Linked DNA regions of Homo sapiens: region 1 is linked to region 2. The links come from fine-mapping of genetic effects on gene expression. Tissue or cell type: whole blood. Region 2 holds a variant in brackets; the other region holds the start of a gene. All regions are shown on one strand. Distances are from middle to middle.

Region 1 (8,000 bases), 33 kb after region 2:
GAGATCCTCCTGCCTCGGCCTTCCAAGTAGCTGGAACTACAGGTGTGCGCCACCACGCCCGGCTAATTTTTAAAAAATAAAAGAAAATAAAATAGAAACGGCCTCGCTATGCTGTATAGGCTGGTCTCCACCTCCTTGTCTCAAGAGATTCTCCCACCTCAGCCTTCCAAGTAGCTGGGACTACAGGTGTGCATCACCACTCCCGCCTTTTTTTTTTTTTTAAATAAAATAGAGATAGGGGTCTCACTGTGTTGCATAGGCTGATCTCGAACTCCTCGGCTCAAGGGATCCTCCCGCCTCAAGCCTCCTAAAATGCTGGCATTACGAGCATGTGAGCCACCTTGCCCTGCCTGTCTTATTTTCAAATAAAGGTAAAAGGTTGATTCCTTAGAAGTGAAATGAGTCGGCCGGGTGCGGTGGCTCATGCCTGTAATCCCAACACTTTGGGAGGCCGAGGCGGGCGGATCACGAGGTCAAGAGATAGAGACCATCCTGGCCAACATGGTGAAACCCCATCTCTACTAAAAATACAAAAGTTAGCTGGGAGTGGTGGCGCATGCCTGTAGTCCCAGCTACTTGGGAGGCTGAGGCAGGAGAATCACTTGAACCCGGAAGGCAGAGGTTGCAGTGAGCCAAGACTGTGCCACTGCACTCCAGCCTGGCGACAGAGTGAGACTCTGTCTCAAAAAAAAAAAAAAAAAAAAAAAAGAAGTAAAATGAGTATTAATAATTATACACCATGTGATAGCTATTCTCCTGTAACCCTTTCTCAATTTACAAGGAAGCATATTAAGAATTAGAAAACTTAGGATGTCTCTATCTCAGAAATCAAGGTGTTGCATGTGTGTGTTCTTGTGTGGATTAGGTAATAATTCAAGGCACTTTCAAGAACTGTATTTTATGAAGATATTGGAAGTTATTTTTTACCAAACGATTACCTTTATTGTAAGGGCCCACTGGGAATTGTGTAGAATGTAGGGATGTGAAAGGCAAAGGCTGTAGTTTCTAGTGACTGTTATTTGCTCAGAGAGAGGAATACCTCTTGATTGTGATACACTTGGAGCCTAATATCAAATTCTTTTTTCCTCCATAAGTCTAATTCCCTGCACAATTAGCAGTTAGCCCTCCACTCCCCTGCACAATTCCAAAGTAAATGTTAGATAATAATAAGCCATATGCAGAACTTGGATAAAGAACATTTTATACCTCGTGACTGGCAATGTTCAGAGATGTGAATCAGTTTTCCCTTTTATTTGCAATCCATATATATGTATTTTTTTTCTTTTTTGAAACGAAGTTTTGCTCCTGTTGCCTAGGCTGGAGTGCAATGGCGCGATCCCAGCTCACCGCAACCTCCGCCTCCCGGGTTCAAGTGATTCTCCTGCCTCAGCCTCCCGAGTAGCTGGGATTACAGGCATGCGCCACCATGCCAGGCTAATTTTGTATTTTTAGTAGAGACAGGGTTTCTCCATGTTGGTCAAGCTGATCTCGAGCTCCCGACCTCAGATGATCCACCCACCTTGGCCTCCCAAAGTACTGGGATTACAGGCGAGAGCCACCGCGCCCTGACTTGCAATCTGTATTTGAAGAACAGCTGCAGTATATATGTTAGGAACATTGAGTTTTAAGGGCGGAATATTTTATTTATTTATTTTTTTGAGAGAGAGTCTCGCTCTGTCGGCCAGCAGGAGTGCAGTGGCACGATCGCGGCGCACTGCAACCTCCATCTCCCAGGCTCAAGCAATTCTCCTGCCTCAGCCTCCCAAGTAGCTGGGATTACAGGCGTGTGCCACTACACCCGGCTAATTTTTGTATTTTCAGTAGAGACGGGGTTTCACCGTGTTGGCCAGGCTGGTCTCAAATTCCTGAGCTCAGGTAATCTGCCTGCCTCAGCCTCCCAAAGTGCTGGGATTACAGGCGTAAGCCACTGCTCCCAGCCAAGTGTGGAATTTTTTTTTAATTGAAGGAGACATTAGATATGATCTAATTCAACCCTTTTTATAGGTGAGAAAACTAAAAGTTTATTGAAACTGGTGTGAAACTCAGACCTCCCAGTACCCACCCTTCATTGCTTTTTCCAGTATGCCATGGGGCCTCCGTGTGTGTTGTTTGTGTGGTGTGTGTGTGTGTGTTTATATTTGGTCAGACATCTTCTTACACTCCTAGGCCAAGCAGCAATAACTCATAAATTTTTGACATCTACATTTCTGACTTAAAAATGCTTTTAATGCTACTGATATTTAATCAGTACCTATCAGATGACTGCTCTCATATTTCAAATCTGGAATTACAGATTGAAGACATTCAGAAAAGAGAACTTGTCCCTTCTCTTTAGAGAATTATTGAAAAGTACAGATAAGTTTGACAAAATTACAATTCATCTATCTTTAGACATTTTAGTCTCAGCCATGCCTAATATGCCCCCCCAATATAAAATTACTAATCAAGACACATGGTCCCGCAGTTCTAGATGTTTGGTACAGTACCATTATTTGCCTAATGGTAAAAGAAGTTGTGCTTCTAGAACACGTGAAAAATGAAGTGTTTCTTTTGGTAAGGCATTCCAAGGATATCCTGTCTAGTTTCTTGAAATTTCTGTGCTTAATTAGAAAACTAAAAATAACTCACTTTTATTACAGATGGACTTGTCATTACAGAAAACCAAAAACAAACAAATAAAAAAAGAAAACTGAACAAATCATTTATATTTGACGCTTTGATGACATTTCAATGCAGAGGAAGGGACATTTTAATTTAAATGCTTTCACAGTTTTGCCATACTTTCACATTTCAATTCCACTCCTGTTTGCAACTAAAAAACCCAAACACTCAAAAAAAAAAAAAAATCACATTAATCAGAATTTAAGGAGTCACTTAGTAAAACTATGTTTTAGGAATCTGTACAATAAACATGAAATCAGTCACCTGACCACTCCCCACCCTCAGCCCATTCCACAAACCCATCTTCCCACCCCTTCTCCTACGCATTGAGCCTTCAGAAATACCCTTTCTCAGTGCGGTTCCTTCTAAAAAGGAGAGGCGGGAGAGTCAGGGTGGAGAAGGCGGCTCCAACCAGATTTTGCGTCCACAAAGCCAAAAGCTTCTAGGCCTGGCATGTACGGCGGGTTTGTGCCCGAGGAGCACAGCTGGTCTACACGGGCCCGCCCCGTAGACACCCTACTCCTCGGTGAGCTGCGGTTTAACTTCCTTATAGCAGGTTGAGAGTGCAGGCCCCAACGTTTGGAGGGGAAGGCGGCGCCCCAACTGGTGTTTTTCCAGGAAGTGCTCCAAGAATGGAGAGGAGAGGGGAAAGGGGAAAGGGGAAGGCCAGGCGATGGGCGTTTCATTCATTGCTTCTTTCTCCCCGTCCCCTCCTTCGCTCCCCCCAGACTTTCCCCTTTTCCCAGTCCGAGTTTGACGTCGGTCTCCTGGATACCAGGCAGCCAATCGCCTCGTTGCGAAGGGACCAGCGCAGCCAATCAGGCGTCGTTGCTACCTGTGAGTAATATTTTTAGCTGAGAGGGACGCTCGATTCCACTCCCGATGTAATTTCGTGTATTTCTCTGGGGCAGGTTGTGAAAAAGGCACTTACCCGCCCCCCACCACGAGTCCCTCTCTTACCCCACTCCCTAGGTACCCGCACATATTTCAGCCAAGAATGATCTTAAACGCGCTTTACAAGCAGGCACCGCGTTTATTCTGTGCACCTGCGATCCAGCAAGCCCTAGAAATGCACGCATGCGTGTGTGTGTAGACATGGACACAGATACATACGCAGTTTGGCCTCGTGTCGCCACACTCTGGGCACGGCGTGGGCTGGGACATTTGGAATAAACGGATCCGAGTCGCAGCCGGGGTCGCACCGGGAGGCCTGAGGCTGCGGAAGCAGTTAAACTGCCGGCGGGGCGGGAGCTGTGGCGGCCTCCCTTCCCCACCCCCAGCCCGGCTCCACGTCTTTGGGTTCTGCAGCTGCCACTCTCTGGGTGGCGGTTGGCCTAGGCCTTGGGGTGATTAATATTCAATTAATCGGGTGCACAAGTCCCGGTCACAGTTTGCCCTTTCTCTACCCCGCCCCTGGGGTGGGCTGGAGGCCGATTTGGTAGCTATTCCACGAGCAGGATCCTCCTTGGCCGCAGACCCCCGCGGAGAGGGCACTTTCTGGGTACTCTTGCCGCTCCTCCAGCCCCGGTTCTCCTGAGCCGCTTCGCCACCAGCTTCGTCCCCCTCCCCCTCTGCCCGGCGCTCTCCGCCTAAACCGGGCGTCAGCCGCCCTACCCCACCCCTTTCTCTCTCATTGGCACGTCTGCCCCCACAGTCCCTTTCCAGACGTTCTCTTCATTCCGTCCCCAGTGCTCCGATCGTCGGTTCATTGGCCCTCCTGGAGCCCGGAGGGTGCGGCTTCCCCACCCCTGCGTCCGCCGCGCGTCCGGACAGGGGCAGGCGGGACTTGGCCAATGGCGTCGGGGGGCAGGGCAGGGGCGGAGCCGGCCGGCGGGGGACCGGGGTGCCGGGCGGGGAGCGCGGGGAATGGCTGCGCCGCCGGAGCTGTGTGACGCGGAGCGGGCGCGCGCACCCCGACGGAGGGGATGGGGGCGGGGAGGAGGCCATAAAACGAGAGGCGGGGCGCGCGCCGCGGCAGAAGGAGCGAAGCTCTGGCCCGGCGTGTAGCGGGCGCACTACGGGGACGCTGGGCCGGGCACCGGGCTGTGTGGAGAAGTGAGCGCGCTCGTCTGACCCCCGTGCCCGCCACCCCGAGCCACTAACGGCGATCTCCCAAGGCCTGCCCGAGGCCTCTGTCCTCTGTCCTCAGCCCCGCAGCGGCAACGTCTTGCACTCGGCGAGCTCGCCGCTCCCGACCCTCCCGCGCCCCCGCCCTGCCGCGCTGCTCCCCGCCCAGCCGCGGGTCTGTGGTCCAAGCCGCCCCGAAGCAGCCCGTAAGTATCTCGGGGCGCCGGGCGGGGTCGGCGAGGAGACGGGAGCCCCGGGCCCAGGCGGCGGAGGAGGGGCTGCAGCGGCGTCGAGCCCTGGGCCCTCGGGAGCTCGGGGACGGCGGGGTCGCGGCCCTGGGCGCCGAGGGGGCAGCGCCAGGACCCGAGGGGAGCGGCTCCGAGGGGCCGCCGGCGCGTCGGGCTCGTCCTGGGCAGTTGGCCGGGGACGGGCGGCCCGGGGCGAGCTGACGGGAATTGGGGGGTTGGGGTGCCCGGAGGAGCGACGAGCTCGCGGTGGAACGCTGGGGTTCGAGGGGCCGGTGGCCGCGAGGCTGAAAATGGTGCCGAGGAACCGGTGCTCCCCCAGGCTCTGGCCGGCTCCCAGGAGCCCGGGGCGGGGGCCACGGGGCGGGGAGCAGCGGGTCGGGTTACGGCGGGGGAGGGGAGCGGCTGACCCGGCGCCCCGACCTGCTCGGTGCTGGGTGCCCAGCCGGGAGAGGTTGCTCTTCCATTTCCCGGGCCTTCCTCCTCCTTCTCCGAGGAGGCTCGTACTCTCTTCCTCCTCCACCTCCACCTCCTCTTGCTGTTGCTGCTGCTGTAGCGCTTGGGCTCCGAGGGCTGTGAGCAGAAATCTAATGAGATCTAACTGGCTGTTTATGTAATTCTTCACACTCCTGCCTGTCTTAAGGCGTTGCTTTGTAACTACCTTCCACCGAGCCTGAATTTCGCTCGGCTGCACCTTCAAGCAATTGGGCTTAATCAGCTGCCTCTGCCGGCACTCAGGCTTTTGACTTGGAAAGTGTTTGTAGTTTGGGGGCAGCCAGAGATTCTTTTTCCCTTTGTCACCACGAATATGGAAAATAGAACAGACGAATTAAGACCAACTTGATTTTTAAACGTACTTTTAAATCAACTTCAGTGTGCAAATAGATCCCTTTCGCAAATATCTTCTGTTTGCCCTTGATCTTTTCTTATCCCCACCCAGTGCTGATCCAGCAAACGTTTAAAGGTCGACCTTACCATACTTGCCTCTCCGGCTGTTACCGTGAGAGGGAGGGAGGGAGAGAGGGACAGACGGAGGTTTTTTAAAATCAGACTAAAACTCAGAAACCCTGGCCTTAAACAGAATAATCAATAGTTTTAATTTGTGTCTTTGCTTTTGTTATACTTGCTGCCGAATAGGTATTTTCAGATTTAGAAAAATACACATTGAAAACAAAAGGCCCAGAGAAGCTGGATTTTATTATATTGTATGCTCTTAGTATACTTAAGGCCGAAACTATATAGAATAATTTGGTTCATAATTATTTACTAGGATGAAGTTCATTTAGTACTCAGTGTCTTTAATTTTAGCATCATGTACTATGGAAATTAAAATGATCTTCCTAACGTAACCAAATTTTTAAATGTCAGTGACAGAGCAGATTTAAACAGTATATATCCAAAGTAAACTAAAACATGGATTCACTTCTAAGTTGGTGAATAACAATAAAAATTACTACCTAAAAGTGGCATCTATATATATGGGGGTGGGGGGAGGATGCTGAGTACAATAAATATTCTTGTGAGAACTGAGGAGAGAAGAATGCATGTTCTAGAGATTTTTCTTCTTAGAACTCTATTCAGAAACAGGTTTTTAAAAGCATTATTTCATTTGTAAATCTACATTTTCCTGTGTCATTTTAAACTTTAATAAACGATTTTCTATTTTATGTTTATTTTGTGCTAGTAACAGTTTTCAGGCTTTCTGTCCTAGTAGACATTTTCTTTTTCTTTTTATCCTTAGCAGACTAACACAGGATCTTAGACATTTTGAAAGGTGAAATTACTTTGGAGGGGGGAAGGTCATGGGACTTATATTACATTTATCTTATTTGGATATGTTTGCTTTTGTTTTAAGGAACAAGATCACTCAAGGTGAAGGATAATCTACTAATACCAGCACTTTGAATGAAAATTTGTTTCTCTGCCACAAACTGAACATCTTTTTTTTTTTTTTTTTTTTTTGGTGGGGGAGTTGAAACCTAATTTTGTGGCGTAGCAGCTATGCAGCTTGAAATCCAAGTAGCACTAAATTTTATTATTTCGTATTTGTACAATAAGCTTCCCAGGAGACGTGTCAACATTTTTGGTGAAGAACTTGAAAGACTTCTTAAGAAGAAATATGAAGGGCACTGGTATCCTGAAAAGCCATACAAAGGATCGGGGTTTAGATGTATACACATAGGGGAGAAAGTGGACCCAGTGATTGAACAAGCATCCAAAGAGAGTGGTTTGGACATTGATGATGTTCGTGGCAATCTGCCACAGGATCTTAGTGTTTGGATCGACCCATTTGAGGTTTCTTACCAAATTGGTGAAAAGGGACCAGTGAAGGTGCTTTACGTGGATGATAATAATGAAAATGGATGTGAGTTGGATAAGGAGATCAAAAACAGCTTTAACCCAGAGGCCCAGGTTTTTATGCCCATAAGTGACCCAGCCTCATCAGTGTCCAGCTCTCCATCGCCTCCTTTTGGTCACTCTGCTGCTGTAAGCCCTACCTTCATGCCCCGGTCCACTCAGCCTTTAACCTTTACCACTGCCACTTTTGCTGCCACCAAGTTCGGCTCTACCAAAATGAAGAATAGTGGCCGTAGCAACAAGGTTGCACGTACTTCTCCCATCAACCTCGGCTTGAATGTGAATGACCTCTTGAAGCAGAAAGCCATCTCTTCCTCAATGCACTCTCTGTATGGGCTTGGCTTGGGTAGCCAGCAGCAGCCACAGCAACAGCAGCAGCCAGCCCAGCCGCCACCGCCACCACCACCACCACAGCAGCAACAACAGCAGAAAACCTCTGCTCTTTCTCCTAATGCCAAGGAATTTATTTTTCCTAATATGCAGGGTCAAGGTAGTAGTACCAATGGAATGTTCCCAGGTGACAGCCCCCTTAACCTCAGTCCTCTCCAGTACAGTAATGCCTTTGATGTGTTTGCAGCCTATGGAGGCCTCAATGAGAAATCTTTTGTAGATGGCTTGAATTTTAGCTTAAATAACATGCAGTATTCTAACCAGCAATTCCAGCCTGTT
Region 2 (10,315 bases):
GCCAGCACCTGTGTGAGGGGTGGCCGGGCACCCTGCCCAGAGCTGAGGAGAAGCTGCCCCCTGGGGACTGGGCCCAGGCCTTCTTGTTCAGCCAGAAATTCCAGCCTTTTAAGGATCAAGAGCCAGAGAACGGCCTTTTCCAGGCTGCCAGCGAGCCGTTTTTCCAGCTTGGCAGTATCGCCAGTGCCTTGAGGGAGGCCTCTCTGCTTGCCCGCACCTCGTAGGCCAGGCTCTCGGGAAGGAATTATTTCTTAAGTCAACTTTGTTGAGGTCTAACTTACGCACAACAAAATGTGCCCATTTTAGGTGCACTGTTGTATGTTTGCATACCTACCACAATAACCAAAGTAGAGAACATTTCCGTTACCCTGAAAGGTTCCCTGTGGCCCCTTCTGAGTCAGTCATGCCCCTTCCCTGGCCCCAGGCAAGCACCAATCTGCTTTCTGTCATGACAGATCAGATTTGCATGTTTTGTATACGTTACCATACAGTTTCTACTCTACTCTTACCTCTGACTTTTCCCCCTCAGCCTAATGATTTCAAGATTCGTTCATATTGTTGCGTCTATCATAGTTCTTTCCTTGTTATTGCAGAGTAATATATTCCATTATATGGATATGTTATAGTTTGTGTAGCCATTCACCTGTGTTTGGACATCTGGGTTGTTTCCAGTTGGCAGCTATTATGAGTAAAGCAGTTATGAACATTTGTATATAAATCATCATGTGGATGCATGTGTTCATTTCTCTCGCATTAGTAACTAGAAGAGGGATTGCTGGGTCACATGGTAAGTGTATGTTTCACTTTTAAAGAAACCACCCAACTGTTTCCTAAAGTGGTTGTACCATTTTACAATGTATGGGTAGGACGGGATTTTGAATGCAGCCCTTCCCTCCCTGTTCCATATCCTGGCCTTTTCTCTTCCCCAGGGACTGAGCAGGGTTTGTTTGTTTTTTTGGTGTTGTTGTTGTTGTTTGTTTTTTTCGTAAGTTTGTGTGGTGCTTTGGTTGTGGGGGCGGTTCTTTGCTTCACCAGAAAACATTCTCCTGCCCCCTCAAAGTCCCTGCTCATGGATGAGGTTAAAGTGGCTATGCCGAGTAGAGAAGGGCTTAAGGATCTATTTATATGTGAGTTTAAGCAGATACAGTGTTGGCTAAAATGCTATAATTATTTTCCTTTTGTTAGCTCTTCCCATCCTGTGAGAGTGTTTTTGTTTTTGTTTTGTTTTTTTTTTGTTTGTTTGTTTTTTAGACGGAATCTCGCTCTGTGGCTTAGGCTGGAGTGCAGTGATGCGATCTCGGCTCACTGAAACCTCTGCCTCCCAGGTTCAAGCAATTCTCCTGTCTCAGCCTCCTGAGTGCCGGGTACATGCCACCACGCCCGGTTAATTTTTGTATTTTTAGTAGAGATGGGGTTTCACCATATTGGTCAGGCTGGTCTCGAACTCCTCAGGTGATTGACACACCTCAGCCTCCCAAAGTGCTGGGGTTACAGACGTGAGCCACGCGCCTGGCCAAGGGTGTTTTTAAACAGAGCTACTGCCATGCTGGCAGCCTCATCCTATTCCCCAGCCTGCTGCTCCCCGACCCCCATCAAAACCATTTCTTCTAGAGGCCAAGGCAGCTGAGAGTTTCTTTTCCTGAGTCGTCACTTTTCATTAGCACAGGCTGATAACTGGGGTAGGCACTGGAGCTGGAGAACTTTGTATTTTTGCTGTCAGTGTCCTACCCCTGCTCTCACCTCCCTGTCTGACCCATTGTTCCACCTTGCCATCAGTCACCAGAGAGCTCCGGGCTTCCGTAACTCAAAGGATGCAGCTGCCCAGAAAGAAAGGATTAAGCTTTCTTTTTGTATTCAGACACATTGCTAATTGCCAAGAAAGTACAGGCAGAAGAAAGGATCTACCCTTGGAGCAAGAGTTAAGGAAACCTAACAGCCTGGCACTGCACATCTGCTGAACTAGTCCTATTTCTACCCCTGTTTTAAAGTTTTTAGGGCTGGGCCAATAAATAACCTTTTTAGGATAAATTCAGATCTTCCCTGTAAGACTCTCGGGATATAATTTCTCTCACATTTCAGGATACCTAAGAAACCATTCTCCCCTGCTTGGGGAATACCACTACTCATGCCTGGAGCAGCTCACTTAGCTGGGTTCATCATGCTCCACCTTCTTCCTCTTCTTTTTTTTTTTTTTTTGAGACAGGGCCTCACTCTATCACCCAGGCTGGGGTGCAGTTGCAGCTGTGCTATCTCAGTGCACTGCAACCTCTGGCTCCCAGGTTCAAGTGATTCTCCTGGCTCAGCCTCCCAAGTAGCTGGGACTACAGGCATGCACCACCATACCCAGGTAATTTTTGCATTTTTAGTAGAGATGGGGTTTCACCATGTTGGCCAGGCTAGTCTCAAACTCCTGACCTCAAGTGATCCACCTGCTTCAGCCTCCCAAAGTGCTGGGATTACAAGGCATGAGCCACCACACCCGGCCATGTTCCACCTTCTTTAGAAGGCATTTGCTGGCAAGATACCGCCAGCCTCAGCATGTTTTAAACAGATGAAATTGCCCTGGACTATCAAAAGTTTGCCTGGGATGATAAGCCTGTGACATTGCCCCAGTCTGAGCTATCAAAACAATATTTAATCCTGGATTAAATATTGTTGTTACTGCTATTTATTTTATTCAAAGATTGAAAAATAGCTGTGAGGTGCTGAATTTGATACAGGCAGGAAGTCTTGTTAACTAACCCTTATTCCAAGTTGGCTTAAGCCAAACCTGTGCTGTCCAATATGGTAGCCACTAGCCAGATGTGGCTATTTGAATTTAAATTACTTAAGTTAAAATTCAATACCATGAATTTAGTTCCTTCACTGCAATAGTCATATTTGAAATGCTCAATCGCCACATGTTGTTAGTGGCTACCATATTGGACATGGCAGATATGGGACATTTCCATCGCCACGTAAAGTTTTATTGGAGAGTGTTGGTTTCAACACTTAGCCACATATACAGCAGCAGCTTTATCACATAGAACATTTAGAACCTTATCACCTAGAACATCTATATATGGGCCTTATCTGGGATAGACCTTAGAGAAAAAAAATTCAGAGATACGATCCCTGTCCAAAATGCATCTGCAAATCCAGAATGACACTGACACACAGGATTTAAGAGAGTAGAGGACCAATTTCAGACCAAGCAATGATGGACGTGTAAGGGCAAGAGAGAGACACAAATTCAAAGAGAAGGAAACTGCATGTGCAAAGGCAAGAGATGTGAGGGGCTGGCTGTTTGGGGTTGTCCTGGAGTGCTGTAACAAGGAGATATTTGTACTTTAGGATGGTTACTTTGGAGACAGTGAGAGGGCCATGGGAGACCAGGAGGACCAAGGAATAATCCAGAGGGAAACTGAGTTGTCCTTGAACTAAAGCCTGGGCAGTAGGGGTGGAGAGAAGCAGTCAGATCTGAGAGA[C/T]CTTGGGTCCAGCCTGGATGGGGTAGGTGGGGAGGAGCATGCACTATACCTGGATGGTTCAAGGAAGAGCTGGGACATCTGGGATCAATTGAATGCTGTGGGCTCTAAATTAAAAAGGCTCCACCAGGAAATACCCCAAATGGCTGGTTTCTAGAAGATCAAGGTTGCCAACGCTGACTCCTTCCAAATCATGAAGTATGAGGTTCTGTGCGACTTCAGCCTTCCCTTTGAGTCAATGAGGCAACAAACCTATTGCTGGAAAATGGCGTCCTCCAGGGAGGGTGTCGTGGGGGGCCCCGGGCTCAGTATAGCACAGAATGCACAGCCCTTGGTTGTCCAAACTCTCCACTTGACTTTATTTATAACCCTAATTACACCCTCCAGGAAGAACAGTTGCTGATCAACCCAGTTACAAATTAAAGTTAATAAAATGAAGACAGCAATGAATGGCTGCTGCCCAAGCTGCCAAGGGCTCCGATCAACCCCAAAAGGAGACTGCGGTGCTCCCAGGACTCCAGCCACCAGTGTCCTCATTCACATGCTTGCCGTGGAACCCCCCCCTCCCCTCCCAGCTCGCCTCCCTCCCCTCAGTGGCTCAGTCCACCTGTTGTCATCTCCCATCAGGGATCATCAGGCTTCAGGTTCTCCAGGTTCAGAAACTCATGCCATACCCAGTTGGTCCCCAACCCAGCCTTCTCCCGCCACTACTGCCTCCCCAAGCGGTCACATCAGTTGTCGGTGCCACTGTGTGAAATGAAGCTGCTGTGAGCAGAGCTGTAAGAATCCAAGGACAGGAAACAGGGCCTTCACCTCTTTACTCCTCTCCAGCTCTCTTTTTTCTCTTTGCAGCTCCCTTTCTTATTCATTTCCTGTTATCTTTTTCTCTACCCATCTCCCTCACCCTGTGGCTGACCTTGTCCACATGCCCTGAATGTCCTGAGAGGGGCCCTGAATTCCACCGGTGTCCCAGATGGTCGAGCGGCACTGGCTGCTTCGTTCAGAAGCACGGGCAGCTTCAACGCAGCCTCCAGATTCTGCTGACCCTGTCCATTCCTTTTTCTTTCTAAAGAGAGGAAACTGGAGAGGGAGAGTGGGGGACAATCCTCTCCTCACAGGCCCTGCTCTCTGTGTACTTGGCCCCTCGCTCTACCTCCCTCCGTCTCCTGCAGCTTGCCTCCTGCAGAAACAATTACAGATAGTCAATCTTCATGCCTTGCAATCCACAGCACACCCAGATGAACTGATGCGGGTTATCTGGGAGGATGGAAAAGGATGTGATGACTGGGCCACTTCTCTGCAGCATGTAGAAACCAGTGCACTGGTTAGAGGGCTACTTCTGACCCTCTTTGCCAGCCCCTATAACCCGAGTACCATGCGCATACCAGCCATCAGAGAAAACAGCGAGTTCCCTGGGGTTTAGGATAATCATCCCTGGATATTCTGGCTTGTTCTTGTCTCATATCTGCCCAGCTTTAAACTCTTGGTTCTTGGTTGAGCACGGTGGCTCATGCCTCTGATCCCAGCACTCTGGGAGGCGGAGCTGGGAGGATCGCTTGAGCCCAGGAATTCAAGACCAGCCTGGGCAACGTAGGGAGACTCTGTCTCTACAAAAAAATTTAAAAACTAGCTGAGTGTGGTGGTGCACACCTGTAGTCCCAGCTACTTAGGAGGCTGAGGTGGGAAGATCGCTTGAGCCTGGGAATTTGAGGCTGCAGTGAGCTGCGATTGTACCACTGTGCTTAAACCTGGGCAACAGGGTGAGACCCTGTCTCTAAAAAAATAAAAATAAATTAAAAATAAACTCTTGGCTCTGTTCCCCCCACAGCCTTGATTAGGGGTTTCTATCCAGTTCTACCAGCATTTGGCTCTTGGATTTCCCAGATGGGCACTGACGTGGCTCACCCACTGGGAGGCCCAGTTTCTGCCCTGCCTTCATAGAAGCTGTGCCCTGGCTCCAGTTCTGCCGTCACCAAATGTCCACATCAGGCTCTTCCCCTGTGCCCTGGGGAAGCCAGAGTGGACCTCTTCAGTGAGGGGGTGGCAGAGTGACCAGAGGAACCAGTGCTGCCTCTAGGGCTGGCCATGCCAGCGAGGGTGAGATGTCAAGATGTCACCATCAGACTCTGACTCAGGGGGCGGCCCACACACTACTTTGCCTTGTAATCAGTGTGTTTACTTGTCTGCCTTGCCCATGAGGCTATGAGCTCTGTGAGAGCAGGCCTGTGTCTGAATCGCCGCTGTAGCCCCAGTACCTGAGGCAGGTTCCTGTGCTCTGACAAAGTGTCTGTTGAACAAATAGATGAACAAATGAGCCCTTCCTCCTTTATTCCCTGCCAAGGTTAATGTCCTCCCCATTCACACAGGCCCAGGTGAGAAGCTTTAGGGTCACTGAGTTTTATTGATTCTGCTTCTTAAAATACTTTGCCCACCAATTCCTTCCTTGGGGGACTATGTGTTTCTTAGCTAATTCTAACTGTCTTTTATTTATTTATTTATTTATTTATTTATTTATTTATTTATTTTTGAGATAGGCTCTTGCTCTGTCACCCAGGCTGGAATTCACTGGTGTGATCATGGCTCACTGTAACCTCGACCTCCCAGGCGTAAGCGATCCTCCCATCTCAGCCTCCTGAGTAGCTGGGACCACAGGCATGCACCACCATACCAGGTTAACTTTTTTTTTTTAGAGATGGGGTCTCACTATGTTGCCCAGTCTGGTCTCAAATTCCTGGACCCCAGCGATCCTCCTGCCTTGGCCTTCCCAGGTGTTGGGATTACAGGTGTGAGCCTCCAACTGCCTTTTGATTGATTTTCTGGTTTCCTTTTTAAACTCTCACCTACCTGTCCATCTTCCCCATTGCTCATAAGTATAACACAAATGTAATCATGCTGCTCCTCTGTTTAAATATCTCCAGTAAGTCTTCCTTTCTCACCAACTAATGTACAGTTCCTTTAGCCCCTCCATGATTTGGCCCAACCTGCTTTTCCAGGCTTCTTCCTGCTGCTTCCCCTGTGGACCCTGGGAGCCAATCACTCAGAAATTCTCACTGTTCTTCAAGTAAGTTACTCTTCTTCCACCTCCACATTTTACATGTTTTATCCTCTTCGCAAAGGTTACTCTGTGCAACAAACCCCACCCTTGTCAGCCTACTGAACTCCTACTTATCCTTTAGGATCCAGCTAAAATGTCACCCCCTCTGATCCTCTGAAGTCATCAGCTAGCAGTCCAGCAGTCCAACTTTTTTTTTTTTTTTTTTTTGAGATGGAGTCTCACTCTGTCACCCAGGCTGGAGTGCAGTGGTGCAATCTCGGCTCACTGCAACCTCTGCCTCCCAGGTTCAAGCGATTCTCCTGCCTCAGCCTCCTGAGTAGCTAGGACTACAGGTGTGTGCTACCATACCCAGCTAATTTTTTGTATTTTTATTAGAGATGGGGTTTCACCATGTTGGCCAGGCTGGTCTCGAACTCATGACCTCAAGAAATCTGCCCTCCTCAGCCTCCCAAAGTGCTGGGATTACAGGTGTGAGCCACCACACCCGGCCCAACATTTCTTTCTTATACCTCTTATCACCTTGTATGTGTCCCCAGCACCAAGTACCGAAGTTCCTTGTTCCATGTCTCTCTCACATGAGCAATTAGGCTCCATGAGGGCGGGGCCTGTGTCATCTACCCTAAGCTGGCTGAGAGCCCTGTGCATGGAGGGACAGGCAATATACCATAGGCTCCGTGGCCTTGGGCAAGTTACTTGCCTTCTCTGTCTCAGTTTGCTCATCTATAGACTGTCTTAACAATAGTTCCTGCCTGAGGGTTGTTGAGGATTAAATGAGTTACTATTCATAAGGCAGGTAGAGCAGTGCCTCTCACATACTAAGCCCTCAATAAACGTTAGCTACTGTTATTATCTGTGATTATTAACTCCTCTGTAAATGTTTTTGAGTGAATGAGAACTTTAAGTAGAACAAGGCACTTTTCTACACATAAAGAACATCCAGTATCAGAGTCCTTCTGTTAAGATCTTCAAGACATCAGTGCACCCCATATACTACCTGGATGAGCAGTCCTTTGTTTGTGGGTAACAATCTACCACTTTTCCAAGTTATGCAGAAAATGTTCAGTTGAGGAAAGATGACTGGAGAAAGTTTATCATAGTTGAGATGAAGGAAGGGAAAAGATTTGGTCATAAGTCCCCTAGTTACGTTTTTTTAAGAGACAGGGTCTTACTGTGTTGCCCAGCTGGGCACGAACTCCTGGGCTCAAGCAATCATCCCGTCTCAGCCTCCTGAGTAGCTGCGATTATAGGAATGTGCCACCACACCCAGTACCCTTTGAGAAGGATGTGAACCCGTGATTATTCAGCTGCTAAATTATGAGGAACCAGGCGACTAAGGGGCCAGGTTTAGGGATATTGCTTTTGGAAACAAATTTCTGCATCCAAAAATCTTTATTTATTTATTTATTTATTTACCTATTTATTTTTGAGACAGAGTCTCACTCTGTCACCCAGGCTGGAGGGCAGTGGCTCAGTCTCAGCTCACTGCAGCCTCCCCAACTCAAGTGATCCTCCCACCTCAGTCCCCCAAGTAGCTGAGAATACAGGTCTGTGCCACCACACACGGCCAATTTTTGTATATTTTTGTAGAGGCGGGGCTCTCTCTATGCTGCTCAGGCTGATCTCGAACTCCTGAGCTCAAGGGATCCACCGGCCTCGGCCTCCCAGGGTGAGCCACTGTGCCTGGCCCCAGAAAACTTTAAAGACAATTGAATCCTAATCATTTTGGTTTAGAAAATGATCATAATTTTGATTTTGGTTCAAATTCTGGTCCTATTATTTGCTATTTGTAAGATCCTGATATATCCCTGAGTCTGGCTAATCTATAACTTAAAATTACTCTCATCTCATGCGGCTGTTGTGAGGTTGAGATGGGATTAAATTAAGTAATTCACATGAGGTAATTTACATAATGTAAAGCATTAAGATCATAGGTGTGTACAAACTTGTTGTCCGAGTCAATTTTGAAATTTATTCTGTACCTGGATCTAATAAAAATGCTTACCTCTGAAGCAACAATAACATTGAGCAGCTATAGGTATAGTTTTTATTCCTTTATTCTAGTCAGTTAAAAAGAAATCCTCTTGAACTCAATATGCATTGTGGGCCAGATTTTTTGTGACTGGCTGAAGAAAAAAAAGTGTTAAAAAATACAATCCCTAGTGGTGGCTCACGCCTGTAATCCTAGCACTTTGAGAGGCCGAGGCAGGTAAATTGCTTGAGCCCAGGAATTCAAGACCAGCCTGGGCAAGATGGTGAGACCCTGTCTCTACAAAAAATGCAAAAATTAGCTAGGGATGGTGGCTCACGCCTATAATCGCAGCACTTTGGGAGGCCAAGATGGGTGGATCGCTTGAGCCCATGAGTTTTAGGCCAGCCTGGGCAACATGACGAAATCCTGTCTCTACAAAAAATAAAAAAATTATCTGGGCGCGGTGCTGTGTGACTGTAATCCCAGCTACTTGGGAGGCTGAGGTAGGAGGATCACTTGAGCCCAGGAGGTTGAGGCTGCAGTGAGCCGTGATTGTGCCACTGCACTCCAGCCCGGGTGACAGAGCGAGACCCTGTCTAAATAAAGAAAAAATACAATATCTGCCCTCAGGTAGCTCATAGTGTGGTGAGGGAGACAGATGACAGATTTTTAATGAGTCAAAGTCTAGCAGTGGCCTGTTACGTCTCCACAGAGGAGACGCGCATAAGTGACAGTAGACAAGATGGGGCAGGGTAGTTAGGGGAGATGATATTTGGACTAAGCCTTGAAGGAAGAGTAGGAATACTAGTCAGACAAGAAACGGGGAAGGAAAACTGACTCCAGGCAGCTGGAGCAGCCCGTACAACGATCCTTAGGTGCAAAGAGTCATCCCATTCTAGGAAGAGCAAATTGTCTGATGAGGCTACAGCATGAACACCCCCAGTAAGGAGGCAAGCGAAGAAACTGGAAAGGCAAACAAGCCTCGCGTCCTGAAGAGACACAGGAGGCGGGTGGCCCGAGTCTGTCCCAAATCAGGACGCAAAGCCACGGAAGGTTGCAATCGGAGGAGTGATCCGATGTGTTAGCGTCTTGTTCTGCTCACTCTGGAGGCCACGTAACTAGAAGGAGGCTATTCCAAAAATGCAGGCAAGACATTCTCATTTGTAGATGTGCAGAGGCCACAAGGAAGGTGATTCCACAATCTAGATCCACATGCAAGCTGGCAAATACATCTTATCCTGCAGTAGATGCTCACTAAGAAGTGACATTTGCCGGGTACCTATCTTACTGACTTTAGAAGAAAAAAACTAGTTGAAGTGGCATTTGCATACTTCCAGTACACCACGGGGGCACCTATCAGAAGTGTCCCAGCAAAGATGGGCACAGAGGTAAATTCTGGAATGAGGGGAGGTCCAAGAGATTATACCCTAAAAACGTGCTTTTGTTGTTGTTGTTGTTTGAAACCAGGTCTTGCTCTGTTACCTAGGCTGGAATGCAGTGGCGCGATTACAGCTCACTGCAGCCTTGACCTCCTAGGCTCAAGCAATCCTCCCACCTCAGCCTCCTGAGTAGCTGGGACCACAGGCGCACACCACCATGCCTGGCTTATTTTTTATTTTATTTTTTGAAGAGATGGAGTCTCATTTTGTTGCCCAGGCTGGTCTTGAAGTCCTGGGCTCAAGCAATCCTCCCACCTTGGCCTCCCAAAATTCTGGGATTACAGGCATGAGCCACCATGCCCCACCACAAAAATGTTAACAGAGATTATTTCTGAGTGGCAAGATTATAAGTGATTTCTTTTTTCCATAGTAAACATGAATTATGGCC

What was found. PIP is the estimated chance that this variant, and not a neighbour inherited with it, causes the effect.
Region 1: TOB1 starts here. The variant in region 2 is fine-mapped to the expression of TOB1 in whole blood (INTERVAL, PIP above 0.99).

Annotation. Positions count from the first base shown.
Region 1 is chr17:50,862,992-50,870,991 of GRCh38, reverse strand. It overlaps TOB1 (transducer of ERBB2, 1), which reads left to right and starts at 4,638. Exons shown (of 2, transcript NM_005749.4): 1 at 4,638-4,934; 2 at 6,829-8,000. The coding sequence starts at 6,975. TOB1-AS1 (TOB1 antisense RNA 1) reads right to left here and starts at 4,313. Exons shown (of 2, transcript NR_038458.1): 1 at 3,775-4,313; 2 at 2,621-3,496. RefSeq lists silencers at 4,303-4,812, 4,823-5,432 and an enhancer at 5,973-6,022.
Region 2 is chr17:50,894,446-50,904,760 of GRCh38, reverse strand. No RefSeq gene overlaps it. Among named protein-coding and RNA genes, the nearest start is that of TOB1-AS1, 33 kb to the right of the region's middle. The variant C/T (reference allele first, on the strand shown) is at 3,468.